Linked DNA regions of Homo sapiens: regions 2, 3, 4, 5, 6 and 7 are each linked to region 1. The links come from fine-mapping of genetic effects on plasma protein levels. Region 1 holds a variant in brackets. A gene starts in each other region. All regions are shown on their reverse strands.

Region 1 (4,065 bases):
GAGCAAAATTCTGTCTAAAAAAAAAAAAAAAAAAAGGAACACCAGCTTTGGTGACCAGTAGGCTAGCACCCGCTCTGCCTCTTCCTGTGAGAACACTGGTGCCTCACTCACCATCTCGGAGCTTTGGGTTGAGGATTCACAGTGAGGCACCATGTCAAATAAACACAGCCCCGGCCCCAGGCAATACCTCTTCGTTGCTTTGAGCAGGTGAAATTTAGAAATTGAAATTGCCCCTTGGGAGAAAATGTCCAGGAATTTGGGTGTCTGTGGCAGGGGTCTGGGGGGAAATGAGAGGCTCCCTTAAAGGAGGGACAAAAGGATAAAGGGAGAAGTTGCCAATGCCAGCTTTTTTTGTTTGTTTGTTTGAGGCAGGGTCTTGCTCTGTCGCCCAGCCTGGAATGCAGTGGCGTGATCACTCACCGCAGCCTCGACCTTCCAGGCTTGAGTGATCTTCCTGCCTCAGTCCCCCAAGTAACTGGGAGTACAGGTGAATGCCACCACGGCCAGCTAATTTTTATTTTTATTTTTTGTAGAGAGGGAGTCTTGCTATATTGCCCTGGCTAGTCTTGAATTCCTGGCCTGAAGCATTCCTCCCGCCTCAGCCTCCCAAACTGCTGGGATTACAGGTGAGAGCCACCATGTCTCATGTGCCACCTTTTAAAGCAGGACTCATAAATCCTGCACTTGCCAGGTGTGGTGGCTCACACCTGTAATCCCAGCACTTTGGGAGGCCGAGGTGGGCAGATTGCCTGAGCTCAGGAGTTTGAGACCAACTTGGGCAATATGGCGAAACCTTGTCTCTACTAAAAATACAAAAAAAATTAGTCAGGCTATGTGGTGCACACCTGTAATCCCAGCTACTCGGGAGGCTGAGGCATGAGAATCACTTGAACCCGGGAGGAAGAGGTTGCAGTGAGCTGAGATCATGCCACGGCACTTCAGCTTGGTGACAGAGTGAGACTCTGTCTCAAAAAAATAAAAAAATAAAAAAAAATTAAAACAACAACAACAACAAAAACCCCTGCACTTGAGGCAGGGGATGAGCCGGCAGGACCTTCCAGGTCTTTGGGACTTCAGCAAAATTCACTCACACACAGCAACCCAGCCCTTGGCTGGTGTCTCCTTTTTCCCATGTATATACCAGGGGAAGGGGACCCTTGAAGTGGAGGGACTCTGGCCCTCACTATCGCTCCCCCTTCCTCCATGTCCTGCCCAGTGTGGAGCCAGGCCAGCGTGTTTGTGGTGGAGGATGATTTCGGTTCCCTCTTGTGGGTGGCTGGCTCAGCCCACTTCTTGGGTGGGGTGGCCATGGTGGAAGGAAGCTCCGCCTCAGATCCCACCTGGACCACCATCTGCCCCTGCTGGTGGCTAGGTGAAGAGGGGCATCACTGCCATCAGTCCAGAGACTGAGATCTGGATGCCAAACAGCGGGGCCAGGGGACACCAGGTCAGCCACTGACTCATATCCTCGTCACCAAGCACCTGCTATGTCCTGGGCACTGCCAGGTGCTGAGACACAGCGGTGAACAAGGCAGACCAAACCCCCTGCCTTCCTGGACCTGCCTTCCAATGTGGGGAGAAGCCCGCCAAGGGTACATCCATAGTTATCAAGCCCAGATACGTGACCTGCAATTGGCTTCTCCTGGTTTTTCTCCTATGTCACTGGCTGTATCTTCTCATTTCCTTTGTGGGTCCTGCCACATCTTCCCAACCTCCTGAGAAAAGCCCACAGGCCTCCATGATGTCATCTCTCCTCTCCCCTCCTCTCTGCTGCAGCCACATGGCCTCCTGCCTGCGGGCCTCTGCATGTGCTGTTCCCTCTGCCAACAACGCTGTTCCCTGGCCATCTGCATGGTTTGTGCCCTTATTTCCTTCAGGTCTTTGCTCAAAGGCTGCCTTCTCAAGGAGGCCTTCCTCGGTCCCCTCCTAGTAAAATGACAAGCCCTGCAACCCATCCTCATGAACAATTCATATCCTCTTGCCCTGCTTATTTTTCTCCTGGGCTCTTAACTTCAATTCATGGACTGTACGAATGTTATTTACTTATTTTCCCCTCTGGTCAGGAAGGGCAGGGGCACTTGTCTTGTCTGTCTTTAAAAAAATAATAAGTTAAATGAGGTGAAGTTCCTATAACATAAAACTATTTTTTTTTTTTTTTACATAGAGATGGAATCTTGCTATGTTGCCCAGGATTGTCTTGAACTCCTGGGCTCAAGTGATTCTTCTGCCTTAGCCTCCCAAGAGGCTGGGACTACAGGTGTGAGCCACTGCGCCCAGCAAAACTAACCATTTTATTTATTTATTTATTTATTTAGAGACAGAGTCTTGCTCTGTCACCTAGGCTGGAGTGTGGTGGTGGCAGGATCATGGCTCACTGTAGCCTCGGCCTCCCAGGCTCAAGTGATCCTCCTGCCTCAGCCTCTGAATAGTGGGACTCCAAAAAAAAAAAAAAAAAAAGCCCAGTGTACAGGTGTGAACCACCATGCCCTGCAAAACTAACCATTTAATTAATTGTTTAATT[T/AATTT]TTTTGATAGAGTCTTGTTCTGTCACCCAGGCTGGTGTGGAGTGTCATGATCTCAGCTCACTGCAACCTCTGCCTCCTAGGTTCAAGTGATTCTTCCACCTCAGCCTCCTGAGAACCCCGGAATTACAGGCAAGCACCACCATGCCCGGCTACCTTTATATTTTTAGTAGAGATGGGGTTTCGCCATGTTGGCCAGGCTGGTCTCAAACTTCTGACCTCAAATGATCCGCCTGCTTTGGCCTCCCAAAGTGCTGGGATTACAGGTGTGAGCCACTGTGCCTGGCCATTGCCTGTCTTTTTAACTTCTATCCCTGGTGCCTGGGACAAAGCAGTGCCCAGTAAATACTGGTTGAAAGAATGGCTAATGGGAAGCAGCGAAGGCCTCTGACTTAGCGGGAGGGGAAGGGTTGGGGTCACAGACCTTCCTGGAAGAGGCAATGGCTGAGTGAACACTTAAAGGATGAGGGGTGGCTGAGTGAAGGAGGAAGCCTCCTGGGAAGGGGACCAGCACATGCAAGGGCCTGGAGCCTGGCGCACTCTGGGAAGAGAGGGAGGCCAGGCAGCTGCAGCGAAGCGTGAGGAGAGTAAACCATGTGTGAAGAGGCTTGAGGGGTAGCCAGCAGCCAGGATAAGGAGGGCCTTGTCACCCATGGGATGGAGTCTGGACTTGCTCCCAAGGCCATGGGGAGCCATGGAAAGGCTTTGGGCAAGAGGGTGCCATGACTTGATTTCATGAAAGTTCTAAGAGGATCCCTCGGCTGCTCAGTGGAGAATGAACCCTGGGGATGAGGGAGTTGGGAGTGGCAGAAGGGAGGCCGGAAGGGAGGCTGCAGTAACCGACCTGGGGAGAGATAGTGGTGGCCTGGGATGGGGAAGTGGTGGCAGAGATGGAGAAGTGATGGATTCAAGACACGGTTTGGAGGTAAAATCAGGACTTGATCTCGGTGGCCAAAGCCCAGTTCTAGTTCCCAAATTTCCCTTTTTAGTTCTTCTGACTCACTGTCTGCTCTCCACACCTCTCCTGTTCCCAGCCACAAAGATGCCTGGGTGTTCACAGTAGCCCAAACGGAGACACCCTGCGGTCCTCAATGGATGGATGGATGGATAAACCAAAGGTGGCATATCTGGCCAGTTGCAGTGGCTCACACCTGTAATTCCAGCACTTTGAGAGGCCAAGGTGGGTGGATCACTTGAGGTCAGTAGTTCAGTTCGAGACCAGCCTGGGCAACATAGTGAGACCCTGTCTCTACAAAAAATACAAACAAAAAAATTGCCTGGAGTGGTGGCATGCACCTGTAGTCCCAGCTACTCAGGAAGCGGAGGTGGGAGGATTGCTTGAGTCCAGGAGGTTGAGGCTGCAGTGTGCCATGATTGTGCCACTGCACTCCAACCTGGGGAACAAAATGAGATCTTGTCTCAAAAAAAAAAAAAAAATTAGGGTATCCATACAAGGGAACATGATTCAGCCATAGAAAAGAAGAAGGACTGATACATGCCACAATGGGATGAGCCTCAAAACCACGATGCTAAGAGACAAAGCCAGT
Region 2 (4,065 bases), not on the chromosome of region 1:
GTCCCAGGAGAAGAGCAGACCAGGAGAGCTGGCTGGGGGAGGGGTCAGGGAAGGGGCAGGGAGGGGTGCCAGACTGGAGATGGTTCCTGGGTGTGCCTGGTGGGACCCCGGGGTGAGCCCCCGAGGGTGAGAGGTGGGAGCAGCCCCTTCTCTGGCCCCTCCTGCCCTCCACAGAGAGATGCTGCCCTGGGTGTGTGGTCACATGCCGACCAGGAGTGGGGCCGCTGCGACTCAGGGCAGAGCAGCGCCTGGAGGAAGGCCCAGGAGCCGCTTATCTCAGGAACACAGGCAGGAAGAGCACGGACACTTCCTGCGGACCCCGGGCTATCTGGGGCAGTGTCTGCCATGAGGGAGGCTGCAGCCTGTATGTCCTGGGCCTGGCCACAGCCATCCTGCCCTACCCTGCCCCTCCCAGGAACATTTCTGGGGACACCGGGCCTGGGCACTTACCATGAAGTGGTGCAGCAGAGGGGTCTCCTGGGCGGCGTGGCACATACGCTCAGTTCAGCTGCCCCAGGGCAGTGGCGATGGGCATGAGATGGCTGCGGGGGGGCATTGTCCTGAGTGGGAGGGAGACAGTCGAGGCTCAGCCCCATTCGAGCTGGCCTGGGGAAGGAGGGGCGGCGGTGGGGGTGGCGCCCAGGGCCTAGCGACCGGGCTCCCTCACAGCTGGCAGCTTTGTCAATAGTGGCCAGGCCAAGGCAGCCCTGCCTCCACCACAACAATGTTCCCTCTGTCCAGAGGCCAGGCCAGGGCCCCACTCGCTAGTGCTGTCACCCCCACTGGGCTGTTCTGGACAGGGGGCTCCTTGCCACTTCCCACCCTCAGGGAGCCACCCCCGGGATCCGGGGACAAAGGGCCGGGGTTTCCTCCAGCCAGCCCTCCCCCTCTGGCCCTGCAACCCCTGTGTCACTAAGCATGCCCCTCCCTGGCTCCCCGGGTCCCTGTGAAGGGCACGGGGTGGACCTTGGAGCCCCTGCAAATGCCGGCTGGTAGCCTTGGGGCCTGGGTGAAGTGCCAGTCCTGGCCCTCAATGCCTGCCTTTGTCCAAAAGATCTTCCTCCACACCCCCAGCCCAGCCCTGCCCCTGGGGACTGGTGAAGTGGTGCCAGGTACAGCATGGTGGCAGCGAGCAGGACCACGGGAGGAGGCTGCTTGAGATGGGCTGAGGCAGAGGGTCCACAGGCCGGGGCTGTCCACCCCACCCTCTGAAGCACCGTCCTGCTGGCCTAGATGCCATCCATGCAGGGGATGGGGAAGGGAGGGGCACCTAGCAGCTAGACCCCCTGTCACCCTCACAGGCCACCCTGGCCAGTGGCACAGGAGCAGGTGCACTGGGGATGGGGTCTCTGCCTCCCCCACAGCACGGCAGCAGTAGGCTCCAGGGCAAGGTGGCAGTGGGCTGCTGTCACCTGGCTGGGCCAGTTGGGTGGCTGTGGGGGTGGGGAGCCAGGCGGGCAGCCTCTCTACCCTGTACCCTGCCCGAGGCTGGCGTTGGCTTTCCCATTTCGGGGAAGAAACATGGTTCCCCACCTCCTAACCCCAGGGCTACCACTTGGGGGACACCGTGCTCCCAGACACCTAGTGCCGTCGTCAGGCTGGGCCGACACCCGAGCGCTCTTGCCTGACCCCAGCCAGTTGGCCCTGAGACCCTGATGCCTTGCCCTGAGGCTGGTAGCCCCTGCACCCCAAGCCCAAGCCCAAGCCTGCCCCAGCTCTTGCCTACCTGGTGGGCCACCGGCGAGGGCCAAGTAGCAGCTGGCGGTGCCAGGAGCACGTCTCACAGAGCCCCAGCCTCCCTCCCCACAATGCAATCGTGCCCAGTCCGACTCATCCCAACAAGCCCGGCCAGGCAGCCCAGCCTCTCTCCGCCCGCCCCTTTGCCCAATGGCACAGGGCAGGATGTTGCTGCCCTCTGCTGGCCGCAGCGGGCATGATGGAGTACTGACCGTGGGCACCTGGCAGGTGAGAGACGGCAGCGCCCTCCTATTGGGTGGGCATTCCATAACCTGGCACGAAGCACCTACTGGATGCCAGGCTTGGGCTTGGCACTGGCACCATCCAGAAACAAACACAGGTTGGGAAACTGAGGCACAGGAGGTTAGGAAACTTGAATAAAGTCACACAGCTAGTATGTGGCAAGGCTGAGTCAATCACAGGGCCCCTTCACTTAACCGTCAGGCTACATGACCTTGAACCATGAACCTTGGCAGGCGTTGGGCAGGAGATGGAGCTGAGGCCTACCCCAGGCCAGGCCTGGACGTGACATGCCCACGTGGCGTTGAGGAAAAACCAGTGTTTCCCACCGACTGGAACACAAGGTTGGTCAAGGGCCGTCTCCCAGGGTGTGGCGGAGGTCAGCAAATCAGGTGGGGTCTTTGTGGCCAGGCTTGAGAACTTGAACTTGTCTCGCCATGGGCAACTGCAAGCTGGTGGCACTGGGGCAGAGAATGTGGGGAGGCCTGGTCCAGTGGTGGTCATGGGCATGGAGAGAGGCGGGCGCGTTCTAGAGGCGCTCTGGGGAGGCAGCATTCTGAAGACTGTGCGTTGGACCCAGGGCAGGAGGCGAAGGCAGGAGAATCCAGGCGACCCTGGGGCTTTTCTGCTGGGGCACTGTTCCCCCTGTGGCAGGGCCATCCACAGAGGGGCTGGCGGAAGTGGGAGGACGGTAAGACTGAGGGGCCCATGAGGGAGGAGGAAATGGTGATGGGGCTGGGGAGGCCTGGGGGTGAGAAGCTTGGCTCAGGTGGCTGGAGCCCTGGGGGCGGCCAGGGTATAGGGCCAGGTGTTGGCCCTGGAGCTCAAAGGCCCAGCAGACTCGGGGTATGGGTGCTTCCCTGAGCAGCTGTGTCATTCTTTCCAACCTGCATGGAGAGAAATGGGGCACAGAGGTGGGTAACTTGCCCAGGGCCATGACCTGACGTCGTTTCTTCAGAGTGCATTCCACAGAGATGGGATTTGAACCTGGGCATTCTGGCACGGGCCACGCTCTGGACCACTGGGCCCCAGATCCACAGCTTCTCACCTGCAGCCGCTGAGGATGTGGAGGCAGACCAGGCAGGCCCGTGGGAAGGACCACCAAAAAGCGAGTGAGCAGCCGGCGAGGGGTCTCTCCCCAACAGGAAGGCCAGGCAGCCTTGAAGGAGCCAGGGAGGGATTTAGAAGCTCCAGGAGGGGAGGCTTGGGGGAGCCAGCTGGCCTCTCTCCCTCTCCCTGTCCTTCCCCCCATGCCTACCCCAACACACACACACATGTCCTTGCTGGCCCCGGATGAGACAGACGCCTGCAATCTGGCATGGGGAATGGGTTTCTCCTTCCTTTCCACAGAAGAAAATAAATCAGGCTGGGCGTCGTGGCTCCCGCCTGTAATCCCAGCACTTTGGGAGCCTAAGGCAGCAGGATCACTTGGGCCCAGGAGTTCTAGACCAGCATGGGCAACATAGTGAGACCCCCATCTCTATAAAAAAATTTAAAAATTAGCCAGGCATGGTGGTGCGAGCCTGTAGTCCCAGCTACTTGGGAGGCTGAAGTGGGAGGATCGCCTGAGCCTGGGAGTTGGTGCCTGCAGTGAGCCGTGATGGTGCCATTGCACTCTAGCCTGGGTGACAGTGCAAGACTCTGTCTTTAAAAAAAAAAGAAAAGAAAGAAAGAAAAAAGAAAATAAATCCATCCACAGGCAGCACCATTTTCATAAATATGTGTGTATATGGCCTGCATATGCACCTTCTACGCTTTCTGAGCAGATAAGAGGCGTGGCTATGGCAGCCCCTGGTCTGAAGCTGGTGTAACCAGAAAGGATCTAGGCTGGTTTGGGGAACCGGAACATCTTATGTCAGGGGAGTCGTGCTGGATTTATCCTGCAATGGCCGGGTCCCCTCACCAAGGGATGGGAAGGCAGCGTCAACTGATCTGGTGTCGTCTCCTTGCTGTGTGCCAGGCTTCTCAATGCTGGAAGGGGACTCGTTGGGTCAGTGGGACGTGGGCTTCACGTTTGCTGGGCTGAAGACGTAGCTCTCCATGCTGGCATCCCAGCGGACACCCCCACTGCCACTGCTGCACCACGTC
Region 3 (4,065 bases), not on the chromosome of region 1:
GACCTGGGTCACTTGTGCCGTGGTGGAGGAGAGGTGACATTGTAAGATGATAGAGCCACCTTTCTCTGCAGAAATGTTCCCCGTTGTTTCTATTGTGCCTGTCATCATTCCTAGGGAAGAGGACGAAGCACATGTGAGTCCTGGGTCAGCAGCTGGCCTTCAACCTTCCTAGAAAAATTCTAAGGGCCTTTGAGGCCCCAACTGGATTTTGGAATGATAGTTTCTCCAGTCCATCCTGTTGCTCCTCCATAGAGGCTGTAATTATTTCCTGTTTCTTCCATTTCAAGAGACGCTCCTCTCCATGCCTGTTATTCAAGGCTCCCAGTCCCCCATTCAGGTTGTCTTTCCAGTCTTCTCACCCTTCTCCACACATCTCTACTCCAGCCCAGCCCAGCCCATCTCCTCCCCACCCACTGCCCTATGCTTCCAGAGCTGACTTCTGCCCCTCTTTACACCTCGCCCACAGGGAGGCTTGTCAAGGCTGCACTCCCTCCCCGCCTCCTAGAAGACCTCAGCCCATCTCAACCTCCCTTTTCCTTTCACATTCACTGCCTGTATTGTATAATTAGCACCTTACTAAATGCCTGGCTTATGACTACACAACTTAGCACGTTGCCCCCTCGCATATTCTGCTATGTAGCTTCATGGCCAGCTTGTTATTTTCGTAGGCCTATTTTGTCTACCCACTTAGAATATAAGCCCTTGTCAGCTGATACCACCTCTTCTGTTTTTATTTTGTTTTGTTTTTATGTTTCTTCCTGCGGCCTAGTTCTATGCTGGATGCATTATCCTTTGAAATAAAACCTTGCTGTTTGGTTGATTGTCATTTGCAGTGCCTGAAAAAACCTTCAGGAAAGCCAAGAAATCCAATAGCAAAGGAAGCTTAGCAGGAAACCCTGCTTCTCCCAGGCATAACCACCCTCTCAGCACTTAACCTCTCCCCAGCAACCCTGGGCACATCTCCATCCTCAGATAGTTCAGAAGGCAACATAAAAACTAATTTATACCACAGTTTTTAAATATTTGTGTTCCCCTCCCTCAGAAATATTTGACTCTGATTTTTAATATAGAAGAAATAAATTTAACAAAAAATCAGTCTCTAGTGGTAGAACCTCTGGAATCTGTGAAAAAGACATTTTCAATTCACAGAGAACTTATAATGTTTTCCTGGAAAGTTCCTGAAAGGCAACAGAAAAGAAGCTGGAGCAGGAATGAGCTTCTAAAAGCAAACTGGCAATGCCTCCTGCCCAGCCCTTCTTCTTCTCCTGCTCCTTCTTGTGCTGGCCAGTCAGGCTCCTCCAACCCCGGAAGTCTGCAAAGTCCTTCATCTGCCACCAAAAACAGAACCCCACCTCATTCTCAGAGATTGTCCTTTCTTAAATAAGAGTACACAGGACTCTAAAAGTTGCAATTTCTTTCTCTCAAGCAGCTGTGGCATGCTCTTGGAGTCTTCCCTACACAAGCACCCAAGTCTCCAACCAAGCTTAGCCTTGTTTTTCCTCCCTGCTGCTCTGCTGGGTTTCAGGCCTTACCTGAGGCGAGGGGAGCCTGCCTCAGCCCCTGGGCCCAGATCAGGAGGAGACACCAGCGCATGCTTCTGCCCAGAGGGCCTACAGGAAGCAGATGTGGCCTCTTCTGCCACTGAAAGTAGCCGACTGCAGATAGGACGGTAAAACTGAGCCTCTGAGAAAAGACGGTCTCGGAAAAACCAAGTTTGGCAAAAACCATATTAAAAACACATAAAGTTGTCAACAAATACACAAACTGCATAGGGTGAGCCACAAGAAAGGCCATGAAGGAAACATTTAAAAATAAATGAAAATTGTGGTTAGAGGTACACTCGTCTTTGGATTATAGTCAATCTATTGTTTTTAAGTTCTGTCTTAATGTTTTTTCTAAAAATCAGCCTTTATTCAAAGAGCTCAAGGGCATCTGTGTAGTGCCCAAGATTCTGAAGAATCTGCTACTGATGAGGAACTGTTGGCTGAGCTCCTCTGGCATCCTCCTGATGAAGAATGTGCAATGATAAGAGAAGCTTATCATTGTAGGGACTTACAGGCCAGGGACTGCACTTGAAATCTAATGAACAGGTGAACAAGAAGTGTTTACTTGGGGGATGATACATGGATGGGACAAAGGTCTTGGACAAACACAGCAACTTTCCCTTGAAGGAGATCTTCTACTCGAATCTTATTTCTTTTGTCTTGTTTATCTGGACTGAGACTTTATTGAATTCTGGCTTGATTTCTCTGGTGCAGTAGGATCAGAGGAGATTAGAGGAGAGAGCTTTCCTGTGCACAATGACCTCATGAGAGCTGGAAATGCAAAGAAGGGTGAGCCCCTGGGAGCTGACCCAGGAGAGGGATTGGTTGACATTTGCCTGGAGCTCCCAGCCCATCACCAGGTCCTACTATGGACCCATCCTTCTTTCCTCCCTCCCTCCCTTCATTCATTTGAAAGTCCCTGGGTGCCTACAAAGCACCAACCTCAACACCAGGCTCTGAGGATATGAGAGTAAATAATCACAGCCCCTACCCTCAAATAGTTTACAAAGCTTGTTCCTTGGTGAACTCAGTCAGGAGAGGGGGTAGAAGATCCACATTCACCTGCCTCGCAGGCTCTCAACACAGTTGCCTTGGGGATGCTCCATGTTGTACATCCTGAAAATCTGCATCTGCACCCAGAAGCATCTGAAGCCTGGTGCCCCACCCCCTCCATTCCAGCCATGCACCTCTAGCATTTCACACCATCCAGGCTCCTACCCTCCTTCTCCCTTGCAAGGTCTTCTATCTCAGGCCAGTTTTCTCCCCTCTCTGGGTTCTGCCTATCCCCAACTCTATGACTTGTATACCCCTTATACCCCACCTCCAGACCCTTAGACAATATACGCCTTACCAGCTTCTCTCTGCCTACCCAAAGCAACCTGTCCTTCAAGGCTCACATCAAGAGATGCCTTGCCTTTCAATAGCTACAAAGCCTTCAGCTGAAGGAGAAATAATACCTAATGTGTGTCCAAGGGAAGGTGCCAAGGTTGAACTGGAGGGATGTTTCCCAAACTCACTAAGGCCGGGGAGCCAGGAGTGGCAGGGCCAAGAGCAGCTAGTGGGACTAGAGCACAGAAAGTGGTGGACACTAGGATTTGGGCTATAAAAATTTACAGCCTGTGTTTCCATAGTTGAGCTGGGTGGGAGCCAAAGAGGTGAGACCTCTCTTATATAATGAGATATCCAGAGAAACTTAGAGGTGGTTTTAAACAATTGTTAAATAATTTTTCTGTTTTTTGCTAAGTAACCAGTCCAAAGAGGAATATGGTCAAGTCCATTTTGATCAATGGTGCTCTAGAGGGGGATGATTAACAGACTGGGTCCAAAGTCATCCTGTTTGGTGACCTTGGAAAACTTTCTCAACCTCCTGAAGGCTCAGTTTCCCCATGTGCATATAGGAATAAGAGTACCTCTTTCATAGGGTTGTGAGGATTTAATTCTCTAGTGTTTGGTGAAGTGTTCAGCACAGTGCCTGGAAGATGGCAGGAGTTCAATACATCAACAGTAGTATTGATAACAATATTAATTAAGGAAGTGAAAGGAAAATTGGAGGACAATATCCCTATCTATATAATGTGCTTTGTCAAGAGTAAAATCCTAGTCTCCAGACTCCAAGGCCAGGGTTCCACCCAACCTCTTCATTCTGCCCTCCTTATCTGATAGAACAGGAGGATAGCATGTTTCTGCAGGAAAGTGACCACTTGCCAGCTAGACCCTGAGGCTGCCTTGGAGGAAAGCAAATGACAGAAGTCTCTCCCCAGGGAATCTACCCCAGACCCTCCAGAGCCTCCTGCACAGACTCCACGGGGAACCTGGCTGGTTCCCACCCACTCAACACCAGCCCCCAGCACTGAGCGGCTCAGCTGTGAGAAGCAGGCCTGCTCTGAGAGCTCCCCGGGCCACCCTGAGCTTTTAAGGCCAGTCAGCAGCCCTCGTGGCATAGCAGGGATCTGTGAGGTCCATCAGGTGCTGACTCACATTTCTATTTTAAAAATGCTAAAATCAGCCACTGTGCTTTATT
Region 4 (4,065 bases), not on the chromosome of region 1:
CGTGATCTCTCTGCTGAGCCTAAGTTTCCTCAACTGTAAAACAGGGATAATGATATCTGTCTTACAGACTCATGAGGAGGTGGTATGAAAAACACCTGCGATGTAGTAACTTAATAAATGGTGATTATTTTAATAATTATTTTGCATTTGATATGTCATTTAAAATGTCACAATAATTCTGCAACTTAGATTTCATTCTCTGTTACACACCTGAGAAGAGCAAGGCTCAGAAGGGAAGAGTAATTTGCCTACAATAATACAGCTACTAAGTCAAACCAAGGATGCGCTTGTCCAGTGCCAGGATTTGTTCCACTGCCCTGCCCACTGGAAGTTCCAGGACAATCTCTGTCTCCTTTCAGCCTCAGGAGGTACACTACACAGGCTGCCTCTGGAGGAGGGCAGAGGGGGACCTGCATGGCAGTTTTTCATACTTGTGCTCTTTCGCTGACTGATTTCAGATGGACACCTGTAGCTTTCAAAGTCTCTATAATTTTCCCCAACCCCTCCACCTTATCTCCCTCAAGTTCTATTTCTGCTCATCATTTCCGTTCAGGGAGTTTTTTTTTTGTTTTTTTTTTTTAAAGTGAGGGCCTATTCCAGAACCACCTGGTTAGACCCAGGTACCTCTCAAAAATACAAACTTCTGATGAATTCAAAGTGGGTAAGAGTCTGCTGATGCTGACCACTTAGCGATGCAGGGGAAAATATTGGGGGCACCAGCTGCCTGCGTGGTCTTGGGCAGATCACTCCAGGCAGGCTCAGATACACATAATGAAGCAGTTATGTGAAGTCCTTATAGGGGGACCTCATGGTAGTACTCCATGAGATTGATGACAGAAGAGATATTTCTCACTTATAGGGCTCCTGATCCTTTCTGAGAGCCCTTAGGATAGAAAAATCTTCAAAGACTAGAATACCAGTGACAGGTGGAGAACTGTCCTCTGTCCTCCATGGGATTAAACATAAAGTGCCTATGGTATGAGTTGGTTCTCTAAGTAGAGACTGATTACATTGCTTGAGTAAGGAAAGAAAATTCAAGTGATTCTTTCCATTTATATTACTGTTATGCATAACCAATTTTATAAATACATTTATAAGTAAATAAATACATACCTGTATAGTATCATCTTGTTCTTAAAGTTGCCCTCAAAAGGAGAGAAGGCTAGAAGATAAAGTTTCTGAGGCCCAGGAAAACTTTAACATTCCTTATCTAACTCATGGCAGAACCTGGATTAGAAAAATGGTCTCTGATACCCAGCACCACTTCTTTCAGCTCCTTCATCCCTGGGACAGTCAACAGGGGAGTCAGTTCCCAGAGCCATTTTTCCCCCTCTCTCTAGTCTCTTCCTGACCTGAGAATCAGAGATCAGAGATTGATAAAAAGCAAATGTTAGATGAGAACACAGAGCCTCCCGAGTTGAGCCAGAGGCCCAGAGTGGAACAAGAAACCTGGAACTATTCAGGATGGGGTAGACAGGAGAGTGGAAGAGAATCCGGCCGGACTCACCTGTGAGCTGCCAAAGGATATAGATGAGGGTGAGGCATGTTGGGGAACCAGCCATATTGCTCTCTGGAAGTCAGCCACTGAAATGAAGCCACTTCCCTCTTAGGTATTACTCAGACCTCTTCCCCAGCTGATATTTAAAGAAGCAGGAGGGGTCACGCCGCAGACATGTGAGATTGAGTAATTGCTAAATTATTTTCAGAGTGAATAGAGCATTTTACCTTGCCACCAGCAATCTATGAGAGATCTATTTGCTCCCCATCTTCATCAGCATTTGGTATATTCCCATTTTATATTTTAGCTGTTTTAATAGGTGCTGTAGTGATACCTCATTGTGGCTTTAATTTGCATTTCCCTAAAGCCTAATAATGTTGAACATCTTTTCATGTGCTTATTTGCCATCTATATATCCATATCCTCCTTGGTGAAATGTCTATTTATGTCTTTTGTCCATTTTATAATCAGATTCTTTATTTTTTTTACTGTTGAGCTTTGACAATTCCTTATATGTTCCAAGTATAAGAGTCATTTGTCAGATATGTGGTTTACAAATATTTTCTCTTGGTCTGTAGCCTGTCTTTTCATCTTCTTAACGGGGTCTTTGGCAGAGCAAAAATTTTAATTTTGATGAAATTCAACTTATCAGTTTTTTTTCTACCCACACTAGGGTCCAAAGGTTTTCTCCTGAAAGTTTTATAGTTTTATGTTTTACATTTAAATGTATGATCCTGTTTTAATGTAAGGTGTGAAGTTTAGGTTGAGATTCACCTAAATATATTGTCTATATTCATTGAGAACCATATCAGGTAATATGGTTGACAGTTTTTTTTTGCTTTCGACACTTGAAAAGTGTCATGACACTCCTCCCCTCCATGGTTTCCAGTGAGAAATCAGCCATCATTTAAATTGTTTTCCCTATAGGTAATGTGTCATTTTTCTCTAGCTGTTTTAAAAGTTTTTTGTTTGCCTTTGGTTTTCAGAAGTATGATTACAATGTGCGTGTTTTTTTTTCTTCTGCCTGTGGGTGTTCAATTGTTCTACTACCATGTGATGGAAAAGATGATCTTTCCTACATTGAATTACTTTTGTATCTTTATCAAAAATCAGCACTTATACTTGTGTGGGTATATTCTGGAGCTATCTATTCTATTTAACTGACTTACATAATGTAATTATTTATATATCAGAGCTTAAGTTTGCCATGTTATTATTTTCTCTTTGTTCTTCTGGGCTTTTGTTTGTTTATTTTGTTCCTCTGTTTCACTTTCCTGGCCATCCTGTGTGTTACTGGAATATTTTTTATAATTCCATTTTGATTTATCTATAATGTATCTTTTTGAAGAGTTTTTTTACTGGTTGCTGTACATATTGCATTTTACATACATAACTTTTGATCTACCTATCAGTGTTGACATTTTACCAGTTGAACTAGGTATAGAAAACTTACCTATATTAGGTTTCTTTATTAGTCTATCTTTATACTTGTCTTAAATATATTGTCTATATTCATTGAGAACCATATCGGTAAGATTATAAGTTTTGCTTCAATTGTTGAACATAATTCAGAACACTCAAGAGGAGAAGGACAATCCATTACATTTACCCATATTTTAACTCTTTTCATTGTTATTTCTTTATTTCTAATGTTTCAAGTTTCCTTCTTTTTATTTTTTTTTGGACGAAGTCTTGCTCTGTCATACAGGCTGGAGTGTAGTGGCATGATCTTGGCTCACTGCAATCTCCGCCTCCTGGGTTCAAGCGATTCTCCTGCCTCAGCCTCCTGAGTAGCTGGGACTACAGGCTCATGCCACCATGCCCACCTACTTTTTGTACTTTTAGTAGAGATCAGGTTTCGCCATGTTGGCCAGGCTAGTCTCAAACTCCTGACCTCAGGTGATCCACCAACTTTGGCCTCCCAAAGTGCTGGGATTACAGGTATGAGCCACCACACCCAGCCTTCAAGTTTTCTTCTTTAATCATTTCTTTCTGTTTCAAGATATTCTTTAGGAATTCTTTTATGATAAGCCTGCTGATAACAAATTATCTTAGTTTTCCTTCACCTGAGAATGTCTTGATTTAACCCTCATTCCTGGGTATAAAATTCTAGGTTGACAGTTTTTTTTCTTTCAACACTTGAAAAGTGTCATGACACTCCTCCCCTCCATGGTTTCCAGTGAGAAATCAGCCGTCATTTAAGTTGTTTTCCCTGTAGGTAATGTGTCATTTTTCTCTAGCTGTTTTAAAAGTTTTTTGTTTGTCTTTAGTTTTCAGAAGTGTGATTATAATGTGTCTTGGTGTGAATTTCTTTGGGTTTCTCTTATTTGTGATTCATTGAGTCTCTTGAATCTGTAGGTTTTTACCTTTTGCTAAGTTTGGGGAAATTTCATTATTTTTTGAATACTTTTTTTTCAGCCTCACATTCTCGCTTCTCTCCTAAAATTCTGATGACATGAATGTTATAAATCTTTTGTTTTTCTCCCACAGGGCTCTGAGGCTCCATTTTTTTTTTTTTTTTTTTTTTTTTTTGGCCTATTTTCACTCTGTTTTCAGATTGGGTATTT
Region 5 (4,065 bases), not on the chromosome of region 1:
CCTCAGCCTCCAGGAGAATGAGTAGCTGGGACTACAGGCGCCCGCCACCCCACCTGGCTAATTTTTTGTATTTTTAGTAGAGACAGGGTTTCACCGTGTTAGCCAGGATGGTCTTGATCTCCTGACCTCGTGATCCACCCGCCTCAGCCTCCCAAAGTGCTGGGATTACGGGCGTGAGCCACCGCGCCTGGCCAGTTGTTTTGTTTTATTTTTTATTTTTTTTGAGACCGAGTTTTGCTCTTGTCACCCAGGCTTTCAGCTCACTGCAACCTCCGCCTCCCGGGTTCAAGCGATTCTCCTGTCTCAGCCTCCCGAGTAGCTGCGATTAAAGGCGCCCGCCACCATGCCTGGCTAATTTTTGTATTTTTTAGTAGAGACGGGGTTTCACCATGTCGGCCAGGCTGGTCCTGAACTCCTGACCTCAGGTAATCCACCTGCCTCAGAATCCCAAAGTGCTGGGATTACAGGCGTGAGCCACCACGCCCTGCCTGGAGATAAAGTTGTTTTTTGTTTTGTTTTTGAGACGGAGTCTCGATCTGTGGCCCAGGCTGGAGTGCAGTGGCTCTATCTCAACTCACTGCAAGCTCCGCCTCCCGGGTTCACGCCATTCTCCTGCCTCAGCCTCCTGAGTAGCTGGGACTACAGGTGCCCACCACCACGCCCGGCTAATTTTTTGTATTTTTAGTAGAGAGGGGGTTTCACCGTGTTAGCCAGGATGATCTCGATCTCCTGACCTCGTGATCCGCCCGCCTCGGCCTCCCAAACTGCTGGGATTACAGGTGGGAGCCACCATGCCCGGCGATAAAGTTTTTAATAATCAAATGCCAGGCCTCCTTTCCTATGCATCGACGGCAGTCTAAGTGGTCCCTAAGTGGTCCCTCCAAATCCCACCATCCTCAACACTAACCAGACACAAGCAACTCTGTAGGTCACTATACCAGGTAGTCAACAAGGAATTTAAATCCTTGGTTATGCTTGGTCTTCTGGCCCATGCATTCCAGAATGTAGCTCCTCCCCCATCATGGCAGGACATCCCCTCTGTACTACCTTTTCAGTCTCTCTTTTCTGATGGCTCCTTCTCCCTCCCCACCTCTCCTCTGTTAGCTGACTTAACTGCCAGAGGTCCTGACCCCCTCCCTCTTCCTGCCACTCCACCAGCAATATCTTTCTAAACACAGGTCTGGGTCACACCACTCTACTGATTAAAAGGCTCCCCAGACTCCTGCACCCCGCATACAAAGTTGGAACTCCTGAGCACAAGGCAGGCCCAGAGCTCGCACCTGCCAAGCTGGAGGACTCCCAAGCACTATTTTAGGTGCTCATGTACATGTGGTTCCCTGTGTCCAGGCCTTGATGTCCCCCACTAATTCCTGCTGGCCCTGAAAACCACAGCTCAGGAATTCCCTCTCTCCTCAGGCTACTATGTGAGCACGCTTAGCGGGCAGACACTATTAATCATGGGTTCCCTGGTCCCCACTGCCCCCTAAACTGAATTCCTTAAGGGCAGAAGCAGACTCTTTTACATGGGTCCCTAGGATCTACCACAGAATTTGGCAGGTAGTGAATCAAAATATTTGTTCAAATGAATAAATGCATTTTGCAAAATCAATTTTTAAGAACAGTGAGGATTTGCACTGTGCCTCTTTTAACAAAAGCACATGTCAGCACAAGCTTTTATATCCCATAGGGTCTTCACATGATGGATCCAACTCCCTACTGAAATCTGATTTCTCCAAAATACAGGACACAGGCCATGAGCTCTTCTTCCTTAGTTCACAGCAAAAAAAACCCACAAAAGTTCAACTAAACTTCTCCATACTCAAACTATGGATTTTTATGCCTCCAAAATGTAGTACGGTTGAATTCTTTTTTAGAACAGGAACATTCCAAAATAATGTCTCTGAACTTAACTAAGCATAGAACCTGATAAAACTGCAATACCCCATCTACACCAGACTTTGCAAAACACCTGAAAGCACATCCAGCTCTTTATCTGGAATTATGTCCTATAAACACCACCTTCCCTTCACGGAGTCTGGCTTCTATGCCAGGAGTCACTTCTACTCGCTTATTTAGGGAAGCAGCAGGCTAGAATCTTAAGTTAGACTCTGCGCTATGAAGGTGCTGTCCCAGGCTCTTGCCTCAACCAGTCAAAACTTCATCGTCACCATTAAAACTAATTCTGAAGCAACTCGATTTACAAAAATAAGAACTTTTCAAGTTATAGAGATTAAAGGATGCATTTTAAGTTACCAGTTGAGTTTGTAGGAAACTAACTTAGAATTTATGGCAAAAAGATTCCAAGCCGAGACGACATTTTCTGTGGAGACACTATCCAAATACACTCGCAGGTGAACCAGGTCTGCCAAATACAAAGTGAAAAGGTAGTAAGTAAACAAGCTTCCAAAGGAGCTCAAGTAAGGATGACGGAACCCACCAAGGCTCTGAGCAGCTCTGACAGAGCAGTGGCGGCAGCGGTGCCCTTCCCTGCCTCTAGCGGGGCTCGACTCCCCACAGTCGGAATCCGGCCCAACTGGGCCACAACCCCTATTGGAAGCCAGGGAGGCGGCCCGCAGGCGGCTCACGACCGCGGCCAAGGCGCAGGCTCCACGTTCCCGGGAGCGCGGGCCGAGCTAAGGCCTGGCCCATCGCCGCGGCGCGCGGCCCGGGCCTTGCAGCCGAACGCTCCGAGCCTTTGCCTGCGGGACCCAGAGCAAAGGGGCGGCTCCGCCCGGGCGGCACCGCCTCCTCACCCACAAGGACGTCCGCGGCCGTGTCCCCGCCCCGGGCCGAACAGCGAGCAGCAGCAGGTGTTCCGCGGAAGGCTCAGCCGGCAGCAGGGATGGGGGCCCAAGCAGCCAGGCACAGCGGATAGGGCGGGCGGTGCACTCACCCAGCGCCGGCGGGAGGACCGCGGCAGGTGTTCGCTCCTCCTGGCCCCAGGACGCCGCCACCGCCGCTCCCCGGGGATTCGGCGCGAAGCTGCCGCCGCCGCCACCGCCAAGCCTAAGAGGCGCGAGCGCCGCGCCGCAGCCTTCGCGCGAGCACGTACCGGGCGGTGAGAGGGCGCTGAGCGCAAGGGCGGGGCGCGCGGCCGGAGCCTAGCAACCGCCTGACACGCGAGTGTTGCAGCCAATCCAGCGGCCAGCTCCGCGCGGCGCCGACTGGCTGTCCGCGCGCCGCCGGCTTCTGCCTGCGTCGGCCGCTCCGCAGCGCGCCGCACCCGCGCGCAAGCCCCGCCCCGGCCAGCACCTCTCTGCTCATTGGCTAGCCACTCCCCCGCCCTAAAAGTCACGCCCCATTATGGAAGCCTCGCCCCCACGGCCAGGGAAGTCCGTCCCGGGACACACCCCGGCGGTCGGTCCCGGTCACTCGGAGCCTTCAGAACCAGTAGTGTGGGGGAGGGGCTCCCCGCCCAACTTCAGGCCTTTGGGCCTCTAAGACTAATCAAGGGACAGTCAGGACTGCGAACTGGCCCAGCAACTGGCCACCCGTCGACTGCGTTCAGCCCTCCTTATTTCCTTCGAATGCAAATCAAGGGGTATTTCTAAGCCATGAGAACAATCAGGAAGCGTTCTCTCAATTGCAAAGGATGAAAGCCTTGCTGCCCGGCCCTTACACGGATGGGAGACTGAGGCCAGGGACAGGAGGAGCGGGAAGCTAGCTCATCTCCTAGAGCCTCGCCCACAGCAGGCTGGGGAGTCGGAAAGCGCCTCAGGCCTAACCCTCGTCCCCTCCCCCTGCCTGGAACACTGGAATCCGACGCCTGCTCTCCTGCCCAAAATAGCTCTAACTCGCAGGCGCTGGTCACTCACTCCTAGTGGCCTGCATTCTTTTGGTGGGGGAAGAAATAAGAGAGGGGGGTTGCTGCCTGGAACATTCAAGGGGAGGGTCCTAAGGTAGCTCTAGCTCTCCCCAGGACTTAACCTGCAGCCCCCCACCCCAAAAGCCCCAGACTTCACAGTTACTGAAACTGACAGTTACCGGATGGGTCTGGGAATGAGACCCGTGGTGGGCTCTGCTTCTCATCCCCACACCATGCGCAGGATGGGTCCATTCCCTCCT
Region 6 (4,065 bases), not on the chromosome of region 1:
GAGGCAAGTCCTCCCCGTCCATCCCACTGCAGCCCCACATTCTAGCTTCTCAACAACTTTACCAAATGAGCAAAGATGGTCAGACATAGGTTTTAGTTTGTCTTACCCAACATCTAGGAATTTTTTCAAAAGAAGGTTTTACATTGGTAGACATCCAACTTTAAAAGGAGTACCTTCACAACTCTAAGTGAATAATAAAGTGCATTTAGGCCCCTTGCTAAGAGCAGACATGACCACGGGTGCTGGGAATGCCTATGACTGTCTTAGTCATTCTGGAGTCATTTTTATCCCTAGGTGAACTAAAAATGTGTAATAAATCAACAATTAGTGAGTCCTAAAAATCTTGGCATACCACTTGAATACTCACCTTTCTTTGGGATCTTTTATGTAAGTGTCAATAAGAAGACTATACATTTCAGAATGTATGTTTTCCATGGCAATTTGGAAGCCATAGAAACAGCGGGCTTCTGTAATCTGAACTTCTTGGCTAAATCGCTCCACCTAGTGGCAAAACACATCAAAGTTAAGCTTGAGAAAAAACCAACAGCAGCAACTGTCAACGGATACTGGCAGCATCGCACTCTTTGTACCATTATAAGGTTTATTTCTATATATATTTCATCCAATTTGTCACAATTCTTTGATATTTTATGTCATATGCTCAACTTACATATCAGGAAATAGATACATATAAAATAGGATTTGTGAGCGCTCGATTTCCTAATTAATTTATGTCAAGAAAGATCCATTCGCAATAAGAGATACAACCAAATTATTATTAAAACAGCAAAGCCACAAAAAGGAGGGAGCAGAGCCGGGCGTGGTGGCTCACGCCTGTAATCCCAACACTTTGGGAGGCCAAGGTGGGTGGATCACCTGAGGTCAGCAGTTCGAGACCAGCCTGGCCAACATGGTAAAACCCTGTCTCTACTAAAAATACAGATATTAGCTAGGCATGGTGGCGCACGTCTGTAATCCCAGGTACTCATGAGGCTGAGGTTGGGGAATCGCTTGAACCCAGGAGGCGGAGGTTGCAGTGAGCCAAGATCACACCACTGCACTCCAGCCTGGGCCAGAGTGAGACTCTGTCTCAAAAAAAAAAAAAAAAAGAGGGGGCAGATGTGGTGGCCACAAAGAGTCATCACATTGCTACCACTTAATATTGTCTCAGCTTCTCTAGAGTCGGGAAAATACCATAAGAAAGAACTGCAAAGTGTTACAAAACAGGAAATGCCATGTAATATAAAACCCAGCTTACACACACAGATGCACTCAGCATGGAAAAACATACAAGACGAGGAAAGCGAACTAGTTCGACCTCAGATCGTCAACGTCAAATGAATGAAAGATGTTTTGGAAACTCACCAAGTTTTCATTTACTATGCCATCGCTTGCTGCAAAGAAAGCCAGAACATGGGATATAAAATATCTCTCCTCGGGTTTCAGGGATTCCCAGTGCTGAATGTCCTTGGAGAGGTCCACCTGAGGTTCGGAAGTCACAATTTTAGCATAAAAGGAAGAGAGTAAAGCCTACAGGACTCACACTGAGCACTCAAACTTTAAGTATGCTGGCACCACTTACTATGCCCCACAGTTAGCCCCCCTTGCCAACGGGAACCTCCAAGTGCATTTATGTCTGAGGCGTGACGGTCACCCCTGCAGGGGTCTTCTGGGGTCCTCCGATTACCTCCTCGGCGGTCCAAAAGGAAGCCTCTGCCTTCTTATACATCTGCCAGATATCATGGTACTCGATGGGGAAGATGACAAAGCGGCGGGGGTTTTCTCTCAGCAGCGGCTCATCCTCCACGCCGGGGGCAGCTGCTTTAGTTTTCTGTTGGGGGAGAAAATAAAACATTTAAGTACCGGGCGAACCATATGAAACTAACGTTTTTCTGGACCAAGTCCTTTCCATTGGCGGCAATTTCACGGGGCCCGATGTGAAAACGTGGCTGTCCCGTCGCACTCCGTGGGTCGCAGCAGAGGAGCGCACGCCCGAACCGGGAAATGGGCCGAGGGGCGCGGGAGGCAGCCCTGGGGAGGGGCCGCCTAGGCGGGAAAGGAGCCGGGGCGGGAGTGTGAACAGCTGAGGAAACAATGCGGCTTTGGCGCCAAGACGCCCAAGGCCGTCCCTGGCCCCTCTGCCCCACGCCCGCCACTCACCGGCTCCGTGGGCTCCTGGAAGATCCTCCTCGCGGTCTTGCTGGCCAGGACGCGGGTCCCGCTCAGGGCCGGCGGCTGCGGGGAGACGCGTGTGAGTGAGGAGCGGCTTCGCTTTCCCTGCCTCCCTCCCCTGCCCGCAGCGCCCTCCCCGCGGGCTCACCGTGTTCTCCTTGTCGACCAAGCTGAGCCCCTTCAGCGGCGAGAGCTGCAGCTGCTGCGGGTCCGTGATGGGCGCGAGCGGGACACGGAGGGAGAGCATAGTGGAGGCGCAGCGAAGCAGAGCGAGCAGCCAGGACAGGACGGCTGGGACAGGGTGCACGGGCGACCCCTCACTCCAGCAGCCTTTAAATCTCCCGCGCCGCGCGCTCCCGGCCCTTCCCATTGGCTTTGGTGCCCCGGCCCTTCCCATTGGCTGTGCCATGCCTCCGACCCTTCCCATTGGCTGCGCCTTGCCCCTACCCAGGCTGGCCGCGGGGCCGCGCGCGATTTTCAAGCGCAGCGCGGGAGCCTCCGCCGGCGCCTTCCGGAGACCCCCGGGGACACCCCCGTGGACGCCCCCCGGGACCTCCCGGTTCCCCCCCCGGCCCGTCCGCTGGCTGGGTCGGGGGCGCCGCCGCCCAGGCCCCCACAGGTCCCGCGGGACCAGGGCCGCAGCCCCTGAGGGTCTCGGCGGCCTTGGCGCGCGCGGGCCCCGGTTCGCCCGGGAACCGTTTAGGATTGCGTGAGGAGCAGCGATTGGAGCCCGCGGGCGCGAGAGGATCCCCGGGCCGCGGCCCCGCCTCCCGAAAGCACCTCCTCCCAGCCGGGCCGCCGCCGGGCAGGGGGCTTAGCCAACGAGGTTGGTGCAAAGGCCTGGAAAACGCTCCTGGGTGCGGGGGAGGCGTTGCTGCGACCCTTTCGATCCGTGTCCCTGCGGTGGGGGTGCAAGGGCCCCGAGGCCTGACATTTTGGCGGGGTGGTCGGCGAGGACCCTACAGCCTAAAAGTTAGGGCCGCTGAGCCCCGTGGCTCGTTTTGCTGGGACAAGCGACCAGGCTTCTTACAGATTCGGTGTCCCCGTGAGTAAAATGGGACTCGTAACCGCGTGGACTGTTAATGCGGTGAGGAGAGCGTTCGTTGAGATGACTCATGTAAAATGTGCAGTCCTTTGTAAACCTTCAAACTACGGGACATGGCGAGAAGGCCCTTGGTGCAGTTTTCCACAGAAATCCTGTCTCCTGTCAGACCCCTGACCCCTATTGTCACCCTTGCCTTAAGAATTGCAAACTGTGGCTGGGCGCGGTGGCTCACGCCTGTAATCCCAGCACTTTGGGAGGCCAAGGCAGGAGGATTGTTTGAGGCCAGGAGCTGGAGACCATCCTGGGCAACATAGTGAGACCCCGCCTCTGCCATTAAAAAGAGAAGAAAAAAAGTTGTTTTAATTGCAAACTGAGCAAAAATTCCTGGGAGAAAGTTCACAGAATGATTTTAGGACTAGGAATTAATGTACTACTCATTGGGCGTCAAATATGCTGAAGAGGAGTTTGAAAACTCCACTGGTGTAGAGACTGGAACTTAGCAATAGCTTTCATTTAATTTTCTATGTGGCTTTCTGATTTGCCAGGCCCTGCAACGGGCAAAATGCCAAAAATAAAGGAAGAGAAAGAAACTTTAAGATCCAAGAAAGAAATCATTAACCTGAGAAAGCTTCAACAGCTGCGCTCAGGGCTGTTATTGAGAGAGACCCGGGACTTTTTTTTTCACAAAGCCTTTTCTAGATAAGATACTTTAAAGAGGGTGGGGTGGGACAGGTACCCTCCCCACCTAGGTCTGTTTCTCTCATTTCTTAAAAGTACTACGGACTTGTAAATCATAGTATTCTCGTGTTGCAGGAATAAGTGCCCATCACATTCCTTACACAAAGCCA
Region 7 (4,065 bases), not on the chromosome of region 1:
TCCCATATCCGAATGGAGACATTTAAAGAGCAATGAAATGTAAACTGGGGAAGAAGTGATGGCTCATTCAGGTTGGGGAAGTGGGTTTGTCCCTGGGGGAAGCCCAGTATAACACTATGGAACTAATACTACTTCTCTATCTTCCAAGGGTAGGATGGGTAGGAGGATGAGATAGAGAAAAAGTTAAGCAGCCAGGAGCAGTGGCTCATGCCTGTAATCCCAGCACTTTGGGAGGCCGAGGCAGGCGGATCACCTGAGGTCAGGAGTTCGAGATCAGCCTGGCCAATATGGTGAAACCCCATTTCTACTAAAAATACAAAAATTAGCTGGGCGTGGTGGCAGGTGCCTGTAGTCCCAGCTACTCGGGAGGCTGAGGCAGGAGAATCACTTGAACCCGGGAGGCAGTGAGCTGAGATTGCACCACTGCACTCCAGCATGGGCAACAGAGTGAGACTCTGTCTCAAAAAAAAAAAAAAAAAGACAAAAAAAACCGGTTAAACTTCCTTTCTCAAAAGTAGGAGCAAGAGGCCTGCATGGTGGCTCCCGCCAGTAATCCCAGGACTTCTGGAGCCTGAGGAGGGAGGATCGCCTGAGGCTAGGAGTTCGAGAACAGCCTGGGCAACATAACAAGAGCCCCATCTCTACAAAAACAAAAAAAAAATTCTTAAGTAGGATCAAAGATTAAGACAGTTGATTTATTAAACCTCTACTAAGTGACCAAACTTTATTAAACTCCATGAAACCCCATGCCCAACCTCCTTCTCAGTCACACTGAGACACTCTTGTACATTTTCCACATGGGGTTTCAATTCCCCACAGTATTTCTGTGACTTCCTTGAAGACCACACTCTAACTGCTGTCATGTGGCCTCTGCCTACCTACTTTTACTGAGAAAGGCTAAGTTTTTCTTCAGAGTATCATAGTTCTCCTTAAATACTGTTGACGACTGTCATTGTCAACTGATACATCCTTTCTGGAAAGCATTTTCAGTTTTCTTCAAAAGGCCTTTAAAATATTCAGGCTCTTTGACTAAGTAGTTACACTTCTAAGTTTACTTGAAGGAAACAATCAGCAATATTCCAGAGATATATATGCAATGAGTTCAGTGAATGGCTAAGACAGAACCACTGTAAATAACCTTTATACCCAACAGTGAGGAATTAATTTCATTTAGTTACCCAATCTAATCGAATGCAGCAATGAAAACATTTTTTAGAAGGTTATTTAATTCATAGAAAAGCATCCACAGTAAATTTTTTTCAAGTATTAAAAAAAGAGGTAGAACAATGGTACTTTTACTCCTTGTGTTATAAGACAAACCCAGACTGAACTTTGACATAGGCCAAGGTCAATGTGTCTAAGAAATGTTTTATTATACTATTTTTATTCTTAGGCTCCTCCATTCCTCTTTTAGGACTCCTTTGGGTTCTCAGAATGGACAGAGCAAATAAATTCCGTTCAGGGATCCTGGACCTGCTTAGCGCAGGAAGAGACTTACTTAGATGCTGCAGCTGGGATAACTTACACAAGTCATGTTACTAGCAAGCAGCTGGCGGTGGACTTGGACCCGTGTCCAGACCTCCAGCCTAGCATCAGAGCTATATTCTGAACACACAGTCGCATAAGAATGACTACCTATCCTATACTACCTATCTTATTTATTTTTAGAGGTATAAATTATTTTTAGAGCAAAACTGAATCGCGCCTGGAGGAAGGCCAGATGCATTGCCTGTTCTTATTAACCCCAACAGGTAATTGGCTCTACTGCCCCCTAGACCATCGCGTTCCCTTTCCCTTCTCCTCTCTCCATCCCAAAGAAAGGGTGTAGAGACCCTCCGTCCTAAAGTGCCCAGCGAGCTAGCCAGAGATACTGGGCCGTGGGCACCCGCGGAGGAACAACGCTCCCTACCTGCAGGCGGACAGAAGCGCGGCTGGTGCGGAGCCTCGGGAAGCTGCGCAGAACTGGGGCCGCGCGGGACGCGCCAGCTGCTCAGCGTTGCGCCAGGCCCGGAGGCGGGGTCCCGCCCACCTCTGCCCAAGGCAGCAAATCCAGTTTGCCGGGCGTTGGACTTTCCTGACCTTCGGTGAAATCGGCGGAAGCTTTCAGTTTAGGTATCTAGTGTTGGTGTCCTAGGAATAAAGCTGTGTATAGAAATGAAACAGAAAGTGAAACATGTCAGTCCAGTTTTCTTGTAAATGAGATTTTCACCGGGAAGAGTTTCGAAGATTAAAGCAAATCCACATTTAGTATGTTATTAATAAAAAAAGAAATTTACAACAAGCCAACATCTGAACGCACCTTGATTTTACCTTCAGAGGGGTAAGAGCTTAAGGTTACCCCTTAACCTTTATCAGAAAGGCGTCCCCCTTTCTGATAAAAGCCTCTTCAAGGTGACTGAACATCTTGACATAACTTGATATAACTCTACAACATATAAAAAGTCAGCAGCAGACCCATATGGCTTTGGTTTTTATTCTAGAAAGTAGGTGTGTGTGTGTGTGTATGGGTGTATAATAGGAAATATATTTTTAAATCGTGGATTCTGTGACTTCCTCAAAGTTCCTCGACATAATGAAACTTCATTTGCTTTGTCATTAAAAGAACTTCCCATCCCGAGCTACATCTTTTAAGAATGCTCAGGGTCCCTGATATTCTGCCACCCTAAGGATTAAGGCTGCGGAAGCCTATTCTAGGTGAGGGTTAAGAAAGCCCTTTTGAAAGCTTTGGGTTAGTGAATGGGCCCAAGATGACAGACGATGGTGTCATAATTTACTTAAGTATTATCCCGCGCTGAACTTCTAGGTGCTCTCTTTTCTCGAACTCCTTGACCTCAAGTGATCCGCCAAAGTGCTGATATTACAGGCTTGAGCCACCGTGCCTGTGTGCTCCCTTTTCTTTTTTTTCTCTTTTTCTAAATTGAGAAATTGGACTCTTCGTTGTTTGCCTTTCCTTCTTATTCATTTCAACTGCAGTTCAAAATACTGCATAATGAATGAATATTGAGATAGCCCTTGCATTGGTTATGACATTTGCTTCCAAAATAAGAATTTTCACATTCTGATTGTATCACAGATTTTTATTTTTATCTGGGAAATTATTGAGGCTGACACTGCCTTGATTTGGCAGGAGCATGGAGTTCTCTTTGGCCCCAATAAAATTGCAATAGGGTTTGGGCCCAGCTCAGATGTTCCTTCTTTCAAATCACTTTTGAGGTCACATAGTAGAATAGAGCAATTTTGGTGACTGTAAGTTTGGGTGACTTCCCAAAGTTCCCGAAGTTGGGTGACTTCCCAACTTTGGTGACTGTGACCTCTAGGAAAATATAGACATTATGTGGCAATACAGTTTACAGGTACTGCATATATATAGTCTGTGTATGACACACACATGTACAACAAGTTTCATGAAAAAATACTTAGATCTACTATCTGCAATGCCCTCTGATATTTTCATTTAATGTTTTATTTTTCTAAAAATGGTCAAGACCCAGGGCATAAACTTTATGATCTGCTAGTTCATCATGACTCTTGAGGTCTGCAAAAAACAAAACAAAAAAAAACAACTGGCTTCAGAGCCATCTACCACTAACTAGCTGAGTTAACTTGGGCAAATAATTTACCAAGTAGCCAGGATTAAATCATATCCTCCTAGATGGCCTGGATGATCTATGAATAATTTTTTAAACTGGGGATGGGTATTTTGTTTTTGTTTTATGAAAGCAGTGTTCAGGGTCTACCTAAATGATCAATGAGGCAAACGGAATTTGCCTTTCTCTAAAGTTGCTGATGGGAATTGAGGGTATTTGCTCAGCTTGCTGCTCAGTGATTTGCGTATTAGTAATGTGAGGATTCGTGTTTTTGTTCATCTTTCCCACCTGTTTCTACCCTTCAGCCATTCATTTTCCCATACAATTGATCAACTACCCGGAGATTGAAAAACAGGCTGTGTTTAGAAAAAGAGAAATTTTATTACCTCAGAAAAATATGTAAAGCAAAACAGATGGTTAATGAGTGGGGGGTTAAGTCCTGAAACTCTGTGTGAATTTTTTTATTTGGACGAAATAG

Alleles and levels. Alleles are on the strand shown, and positions count from the first base shown. The strength of an association depends on the size of the effect and on how common the allele is.
For the plasma level of the protein whose gene starts at base 1,782 in region 2, AATTT is the low allele of the variant in region 1 and T is the other (weak association).
With allele T in place of AATTT in region 1, the plasma level of the protein whose gene starts at base 1,627 in region 3 is higher (weak association).
In carriers of allele T in region 1, the plasma level of the protein whose gene starts at base 1,617 in region 4 tends to be higher than with AATTT alone (weak association).
For the plasma level of the protein whose gene starts at base 3,060 in region 5, allele T in region 1 goes with a higher level than allele AATTT (weak association).
For the plasma level of the protein whose gene starts at base 2,479 in region 6, AATTT is the low allele of the variant in region 1 and T is the other (weak association).
For the plasma level of the protein whose gene starts at base 1,964 in region 7, AATTT is the low allele of the variant in region 1 and T is the other (moderate association).

What was found. A credible set is the group of variants that fine-mapping cannot tell apart. PIP is the posterior inclusion probability: the model's chance that the variant is causal. The UK Biobank Pharma Proteomics Project read protein levels with antibody pairs (Olink). The fine-mapping took linkage between variants from a reference panel, not from the people measured, so its PIPs are less certain.
Region 2: PLXNB3 starts here. The variant in region 1 is the best candidate, but not a certain one, in a credible set for the plasma level of the PLXNB3 protein (UK Biobank, PIP 0.56).
Region 3: it holds the start of TIGIT, and the variant in region 1 is the best candidate, but not a certain one, in a credible set for the plasma level of the TIGIT protein (UK Biobank, PIP 0.51).
Region 4: SLAMF7 starts here. The variant in region 1 is the best candidate, but not a certain one, in a credible set for the plasma level of the SLAMF7 protein (UK Biobank, PIP 0.77).
Region 5: it holds the start of DAG1, and the variant in region 1 is the best candidate, but not a certain one, in a credible set for the plasma level of the DAG1 protein (UK Biobank, PIP 0.51).
Region 6: RRM2 starts here. The variant in region 1 is the best candidate, but not a certain one, in a credible set for the plasma level of the RRM2 protein (UK Biobank, PIP 0.55).
Region 7: CD274 starts here. The variant in region 1 is the best candidate, but not a certain one, in a credible set for the plasma level of the CD274 protein (UK Biobank, PIP 0.50).

Annotation. Positions count from the first base shown.
Region 1 is chr12:111,387,130-111,391,194 of GRCh38, reverse strand. The region is part of intron 2 of LINC02356 (long intergenic non-protein coding RNA 2356); the gene reads right to left. Among named protein-coding and RNA genes, the nearest start is that of SH2B3, 17 kb to the left of the region's middle. The variant T/AATTT (reference allele first, on the strand shown) is at 2,522.
Region 2 is chrX:153,761,966-153,766,030 of GRCh38, reverse strand. PLXNB3 (plexin B3) reads right to left here and starts at 1,782. Exons shown (of 36, transcript NM_005393.3): 1 at 1,727-1,782; 2 at 451-560. The coding sequence starts at 495. It overlaps PLXNB3-AS1 (PLXNB3 antisense RNA 1), which reads left to right. Exons shown (of 3, transcript NR_199696.1): 2 at 2,182-2,321.
Region 3 is chr3:114,291,590-114,295,654 of GRCh38, reverse strand. TIGIT (T cell immunoreceptor with Ig and ITIM domains) reads right to left here and starts at 1,627. Exons shown (of 4, transcript NM_173799.4): 1 at 1,533-1,627; 2 at 1-110. The coding sequence starts at 1,593. RefSeq lists an enhancer at 3,429-4,065.
Region 4 is chr1:160,736,799-160,740,863 of GRCh38, reverse strand. It overlaps SLAMF7 (SLAM family member 7), which reads right to left and starts at 1,617. Exons shown (of 7, transcript NM_021181.5): 1 at 1,508-1,617. The coding sequence starts at 1,562. LOC124904440 (a long non-coding RNA gene) reads left to right here and starts at 1,705. Exons shown (of 2, transcript XR_007066687.1): 1 at 1,705-1,781.
Region 5 is chr3:49,469,262-49,473,326 of GRCh38, reverse strand. It overlaps DAG1 (dystroglycan 1), which reads right to left and starts at 3,060. Exons shown (of 3, transcript NM_004393.6): 1 at 2,894-3,060. RefSeq lists a silencer at 2,642-3,381.
Region 6 is chr2:10,121,153-10,125,217 of GRCh38, reverse strand. RRM2 (ribonucleotide reductase regulatory subunit M2) reads right to left here and starts at 2,479. Exons shown (of 10, transcript NM_001034.4): 1 at 2,321-2,479; 2 at 2,161-2,235; 3 at 1,688-1,831; 4 at 1,366-1,482; 5 at 368-501. The coding sequence starts at 2,419. RefSeq lists silencers at 2,518-3,018, 2,425-3,024 and enhancers at 3,245-3,354, 3,375-3,444, 3,202-3,757, 3,806-4,065.
Region 7 is chr9:5,448,441-5,452,505 of GRCh38, reverse strand. It overlaps CD274 (CD274 molecule), which reads right to left and starts at 1,964. Exons shown (of 7, transcript NM_014143.4): 1 at 1,910-1,964. RefSeq lists enhancers at 1,688-1,847, 2,138-2,187.